Homo sapiens: one gene and its partner. The protein of the gene in region 2 interacts with the protein of the main gene of each other region in a pairwise test. Each region holds a gene or a part of one and is shown on either strand. Other genes may lie near its edges.

The links. The genes of interacting proteins can lie anywhere in the genome.
Region 1: the proteins of ROBO2 (region 2) and BNIP3L interact in a two-hybrid assay, tested with the Homo sapiens proteins (one large-scale study listed by BioGRID and IntAct).

The regions. Positions count from the first base shown.
Region 1 is NC_000008.11:26,393,054-26,396,553, forward strand, and holds part of BNIP3L (BCL2/adenovirus E1B 19 kDa protein-interacting protein 3-like), read left to right. Parts: intron 1-2,176; coding exon 2,177-2,249; intron 2,250-3,500.
Region 2 is NC_000003.12:77,043,099-77,046,598, forward strand, and holds part of ROBO2 (roundabout homolog 2 isoform 23 precursor), read left to right. Parts: intron 1-3,500. UniProt on the Homo sapiens protein: Receptor for SLIT2, and probably SLIT1, which are thought to act as molecular guidance cue in cellular migration, including axonal navigation at the ventral midline of the neural tube and projection of axons to different regions during neuronal development.

The DNA.
Region 1 (3,500 bases), on a different chromosome or scaffold from region 2:
TCCAGGCCCTAGATTAGTGGTCATCTTTCAGAGAATGGCTAGAACTCGAGTCTTCTGGGATAGCCTACTAACACGCTTTACCATTGAGGAGTGTCTTCAAAACTCACATCATCTGAATTGCCATGCGTCTCTATATGTGAAAAGTAATTGGAAAGTGTTTCTTGTAGGGGGAAATGTTTTAGGGTTGTTGGGTATCAGTCCTAGAGCTGATTTATGTATATTTTCAACTTAAAAATTATTCCATAGAAATATTTGTGTTGCCGCAGGGGTTGTTAGCTGGGAACCCCAGTGTGTTCTGCTTTGCCTTTCACCCTGTCACAGGGGTTTTCACCTTGACGGCACACTAGATTCACCCAGAAGCTTTTAAAAATGGCAGCACATGGACTGCATCTCAAGAACTTCTCATTTTGGTTGACAGGGGCAGGGTAGAGACGTCACAATATTTTAAAAGCTCCCCAGCCGATTCTAATATGTGCCATGGGTGAAGCTCTAATGCATTCCAAATTGTTAGGAGGAGTAAACAGTTTAGAGAAGAGGTTGGTACCAGTGTGAAGAAGCATATAGAAGCAGAGCAATGCTTCCATAGGATTCTTGACTTTGTCACCCTGACTGCCTTGACCTGGTCACGGCTATGTAAGGCTGACCCTTAACTTGATGTGTAGCTGTGAACCCAACAGTTATGAGCACAAAGATAGTAAACTGAGGCCAGTAGGAGTGCCCAGTTCGGGTTGACTCCTGTGCTAGTTCAAGACAAAAATTTCCTAAATATATATGACGTTGGTTTGATACAGAACCAGCTTTTCTGTTTTCCTGTCCCCATTTAAAAATCTCCTATGTCAATTATACTAGTCTAAAAGACTCCTAGGCCTAATCTGTCTGATAAATTTCTGACGATCTTATTTCTGAGTCAGTCTCACCAACGTCTCTATACATTAATTAACATTATATACATACTCTTGATAACTTTAATAGTTAATATCTATTCTTTTCAGCAAGTTAAGCCCCAAATATTTTTTATTTCTATTTTAGATTTTGGGGGAGGGTTTGTGTATGTAGTGAAGGATCCCCAGTGACTTTCAGTTTTTATACAAGAAATCATTAATAAAGCTAAGAAATTAACTTAGCACATTCTGTTCATCTCTTGTATCAAGTGCAGTTTGTGATCATGTTGTTTTTGTCTAAAAACTTATTTGTAAATTTTTACAGTTCTAAGAATGTATTTTGTGCAATCATAAAGGTTTTATATTAATATATAAGTTATATAATTCACTCTGAAATATCTCAAAGCAAATATTTCTGAAATAAGTAAAATAGTGGTTCTCAAAGTTTTTGGTCATTACATACCTTTACATTCTTAAAAATCATTAGGGACCCCAAAAAACTTGTTTGTGGGTTTATATATTTTGATATTTACTATATTAGAAATTAAAACTGAGAAAATATATATTCATTCAAAAATAATACATTTTAACATAAGTAGCATTTTTTAGTGAAAATACCTATTTTCTATAAACCCTCCAAGTTAATAAGAATAGTGGCATTGTTTTACACATTTACAAATCTCTAATACCAAGCTTAATAGAAGACAGCTGGTTCTCATCTGTGTTTGCATTCTAACTGTTGTGCTATCACACATCATGTAGCCTTTGGAAAATTCCACTATACACATGGGAGAATGAGAATGAAAAAGGCAAATAAATCCTACTAGTATTGAGAAAGGAACTGTAACCTCAAAGACCCTCTGAAAGCGTCTTTGAGAACTACCTTATGCACTTTGAGAACTACTGGTGAATTATTTAATGATGAGGGAACTTTGAGAAAAAGAACTCTGAAGTTCCTGAATTTGAAGATTATTTTACCTTTAGTGGACAAAAGAGTAAATATAAGAGAATGTGACAGTTTGTGTCTGTAGATAGTATTTCCTTTGCAAATTTATCATTTTGAAGGATTTCATTACTACTGAAAAAGTGCAGAACATTTTGGGAGTAAGAATGCTCAATTTCATTTAGCCTTTTAATATCACATAAATTTTTCTTGTATAGGGTTATGATATATTCTCTGATTTGCTTTTTCAAAGCCATACTGCTGTAACTTTTAATTTTCTAATTTCTAGTAGAGACTAAGTCATTTGACAAAGTGAGAATTAAAACTAATAGCTGAATTCCTTCTCTTCTAGCCCTTCGCCACAAGAAGATGGGCAGATCATGTTTGATGTGGAAATGCACACCAGCAGGGACCATAGCTCTCAGGTGTGTCGGGGGGATTCTGATTTACAGTAAACAATTAAGAAAGATGTAAATTCTCTAAGTATATTTTGCTAAAATAAATGTGAAGACTTTTAGGAATAGTTTGAAGCTATTATTGAGTTTCTGATTTTGGAATTTATTTAGGATGATATAGTTCTTGTCGCACTCCTTTACAACTAAGGATTTTGGGCCCTGTCACTCTAAACGAATTGGAAAATTCTTGTCCATAATAAATCATGCCAATACTCCAGGCTAGTTTCTTGAGTGTATAAGTAGAAAAAGACTGAGATAGATGCTTTAAGACCACAGAATAGGGAGGAGCCAAGATGGCTGAATAGGAACAGCTCCGGTCTACAGCTCCCAGCATGAGCGACGCAGAAGACGGGTGATTTCTGCATTTCCATCTGAGGTACCGGGTTCATCTCACTAGGGAGTGCCAGACAGTGGGCGCAGGCCAGTGGGTGCGCGCACCGTGCGCGAGCCGAAGCAGGGCGAGGCATTGCCTCACCTGGGAAGCGCAAGGGGTCAGGGAGTTCCCTTTCCGAGTCAAAGAAAGGGGTGACGGACGCACCTGGAAAATCGGGTCACTCCCACCCGAATATTGTGCTTTTCAGACCGGCTTAAAAAACGGCGCACCACGAGACTATATCCCACACCTGGCTCGGAGGGTCCTATGCCCACGGAATCTCGCTGATTGCTAGCACAGCAGTCTGAGATCAAACTGCAAGGCGGCAGCGAGGCTGGGGGAGGGGCGCCCGCCATTGCCCAGGCTTGCTTAGGTAAACAGAGCAGCCGGGAAGCTCGAACTGGGTGGAGCCCACCACAGCTCAAGGAGGCCTGCCTGCCTCTGTAGGCTCCACCTCTGGGGGCAGGGCACAGACAAACAAAAAGACAGCAGTAACCTCTGCAGACTTAAATGTCCCTGTCTGACAGCTTTGAAGAGAGCAGTGGTTCTCCCAGCACGCAGCTGGAGATCTGAGAACGGGCAGACTGCCTCCTCAAGTGGGTCCCTGACCCCTGACCCCCGAGCAGCCTAACTGGGAGGCACCCCCCAGCAGGGGCACACTGACACCTCACACGGCAGGGTATTCCAACAGACCTGCAGCTGAGGGTCCTGTCTGTTAGAAGGAAAACTAACAAACAGAAAGGACATCCACACCGAAAACCCATCTGTACATCACCATCATCAAAGACCAAAAGTAGATAAAACCACAAAGATGGGGAAAAAACAGAACAGAAAAACTGGAAACTCTA
Region 2 (3,500 bases):
GATGTGGAGAACACTGCCCTCTAGGCTGTTTCAGCACTTTGAGACTCAGTGTTCACATATATAGTGAAGAGGTTGGTTTGTAGGTTCTCTAAGCTTTGTTACTCTTCCAGGATTCTATGATTTCTATTTACTTATTCTTCTTAGAGGTGTGTGCTTATACTCCACATGAATTTCAAATGTACAGAAGCCTGTACCATTTCAAAGATATACTGACCATCCTTGTGCTAGACACAGATATTAATTTTATTCAGTGACAAATGATACATATATTTGCATTGATATTTGCTTGGTGGGTTATTTATATGTGCATTTTTATAGTATATGAAAAATGGTAGCGTTTTGCCACCTCATAGAAGCTATCTGCTAATATTATTTATAATTTTTCAGTATTGTGTCCCTGTAGCAATCCATAGAGAGCAAATATTAAGTTAGTTGAGAAATGTAGATAAACTTTTCTATTTGGGATGTAAATAATGGTTTTCTTATTGATGCAGATTAATCACATCTAGACTTTTCTGTATGATCATATAGGAGAATGTATGTTAAGGTTAGCCTTTGTTTTCCAGCTTTTCTTTATTTTTGAATAAGAATAGGGTTTTGCAGTCATTTATGGGAAATTAATATGAACTATGGCAACACTTTTAAATTACATCTATATGCCATATATTACATCAATCTGATAATTTTATAATACTTGTGAAAAGGTGTTTTAAAATGAGAATGTTTTTCTCATCTTTACCCTTTAACTATTCTTAAATGAAAGTGGCACACATGATATTAGGGGAGATAAATATAGTAAAGATAATGTATGTGCATAGTGCAGATGTAGAATCTCATAGAGGTTTATACATGTTGCTAAAGTGCTCTTTTTCAGTAATGGGCTTATTATCATAGCCATATGTAGTCTATTTCAGAATTTAAATTATATATAAGTAACCTGAAATGTGTTTTTGAAGCTATGCAGTAATACCATGTTTGAATTGGCTTTGTTTGAATAACCTTTGATGCTACGCAACATGTGGACCATAAAAAAAAAGGATTTCTTAGAACATTAAGCAAAAATATTGTAAAAAAAAAAAGTAATGATTATATAAAAAGAGCAGTTCTGGCCATCTCATCCCTGAGCAGCTTGTATAAAATAGCATGTTTGACGATAAAAATATAGATATGTAAGCACATTGTATAAGTTGGGATACATACATAGCAATGAAGGGAGCTGATGTATGTGGGATGTGTGTGTGCCTAGTAATATCTGCTGAAATAGTTCCGGCAGTCTACAGGAGGTACATTTACTTCCCATGTGCAATTTGGTTTTCGAAGAGTATTAGAAAAAAAGATTATCATCTTATTTACTATTTCTCCTTTTTCTCCTTTTTTTCCTCCTTCTCCTCTCCTTCTCTTTCTTCTTCTCATTCATCGTCTCTTTCCTTTTCTTATTCTCCTCCTCTTTTTTTCTTTTTTGGATCTAATGAAAGGAATTAGAGAAACACTTGAAGAGTGAAGAAGATAGGTGAGGGTGTTTCTTGAATGATAATTTAGAAAATCTGCATTTAAAGGAAAAATGTGAATAATATTTTACCTTTAGGTATATCCAACTGGGATTTTGACTTTCTCACTTTTACCCCACAATACTATATATAGCTTTATGCAAAATGTTTTGCACGGATCCTATCATTTTCCAGTTTACACAAGTAAAAGTCGTCATATCTGAGTTCAAGCAAACAGTGGAGATTTATAGAGTGCCATTTTACAGATTTATTTCTAAAGAAAAGTATTGCTGTATTTCTTAAAGGTTCTCCAGGTATAGATCTATCAACCTAAATCAATACATTGGCATAGATATTGCTTTTCTCCTTCTTCTCTTCTTTTTTTTTCCATGTGTGCCTTTATTAGCTGAGCCACTACTTGAGGGTTTAAGGTCTTTGTGAGGGGCTTGGAACACCCAATGTTGGGGGAGGGAGGCGGGCGGTAGGGAAAGTATCTGAAAGGACTTCCTGAGCCAGCTGTAGGCTTTTCTTCTTCTTGTAAAAGAATTACTATATAAAGAATGAAGGAATGATTATAAACTCTTTTTAAAAATAAATACCTATCAACTCTACTGTTTTAGTAGTGTGTTATACAATGATAGAAGCATATAGCATCTAGGGTAGCATGCTTACCCAGAATACTTGACTCAACACAGTGTTGGAGTAACGGAGGCCTCAATCCTTAGTGTTTTCTCCTCCATTTGCAGCCAATCCTTAGGCTCTTTCATCTAATCACATGAGGTTTAAATACATGTTTGGATTGATAATTCTAAAATTGCCCTAATCATTGCATGGAGGGATATAAGATCCATCAGCACAGAACTTGGCTGTTGTATATACTGTTGATCTCCAGTGCTTGCATCAGTGCTTGACATACTCACCTGACTACTTGACGTCTTTGCTTCATGTCCAATGAGAATGTACAAAACTCAAGCCTAAGACAGAATCTTCTCTTTCTAGCCATTCCCATCACAGTAAATGGCTTCCACCATTCATAGGCTTTTTCATGACCCCCAATGAGGAACCATTTTTCACTTGTTCTCACAACTTGTATTCAACTTGTTCTCAGAATTGTGCAACCATCACTACAATCTAACTTTAAAATGTTCTTAATTACCCAAGAAAGAAACTATGTAGCTTGTTCCACCATCCCTCCACCAACCACAAGAAATCACCACTCTACTTCTGCCTCTGTGGATTTGTCTTTTCTGGACATTTTATATATAAATGCAATCATACAATATATGATGTCATTTTGTGACTAGCTTCTTTTCTTTAGCGTAATGTTTTTAAGGGTCATCCGTGTCATAGCATATGCATCAGTACATCATTCTTTTTTATTGCCAAACAATATTCCTTATCATCTATCCTTTGGTTTACTAGTTGATGAACATTTAAGTTATTTCCATTTTTGGCTATTATAGATATTGCTGCTTTGAACATCCACGTACTAACTTTTGTGTGAACATATGTCTTCATTTAACCTGGGATGGAAATGCTGGGTTGTATGTTTAGTCTGTGTTTCACATTTTGAGGAACTGCAAGACTATTTTCCAAAGCAGCTGTGCTACTTTACATTGCCATTAGCAATATATGAAGTAGATATTTTCTTTTAATTGATCATGGAAAGAAAGAGTCGAAGGGCCTTATGAGTTGGGTATGATGTTTTGAAGTGAAACAATTTTATATTATACTAATCTGTCTCAAATCCCCAATAGTCCTGATTTCTAATCCCTTCAGTGGTTGTTGTCTTCTAAGTCTTCCTCAGTTGCCTCGTAAAACTTTACAAAGATAGTACCTCAGTTGAACTTGTCACTTTTAGCAGAGATCTCAGCAATAGTAAATATAAATCATAGAATGATAGCATCTCGGAGCCATTATGAATATTTGCAGCTATATTGCACAACTCTCTTATTGGTTGGGCACATGGAGAACTGAAGCTTAGAGATTTTATGTGCCTTGTCACAGATCCCA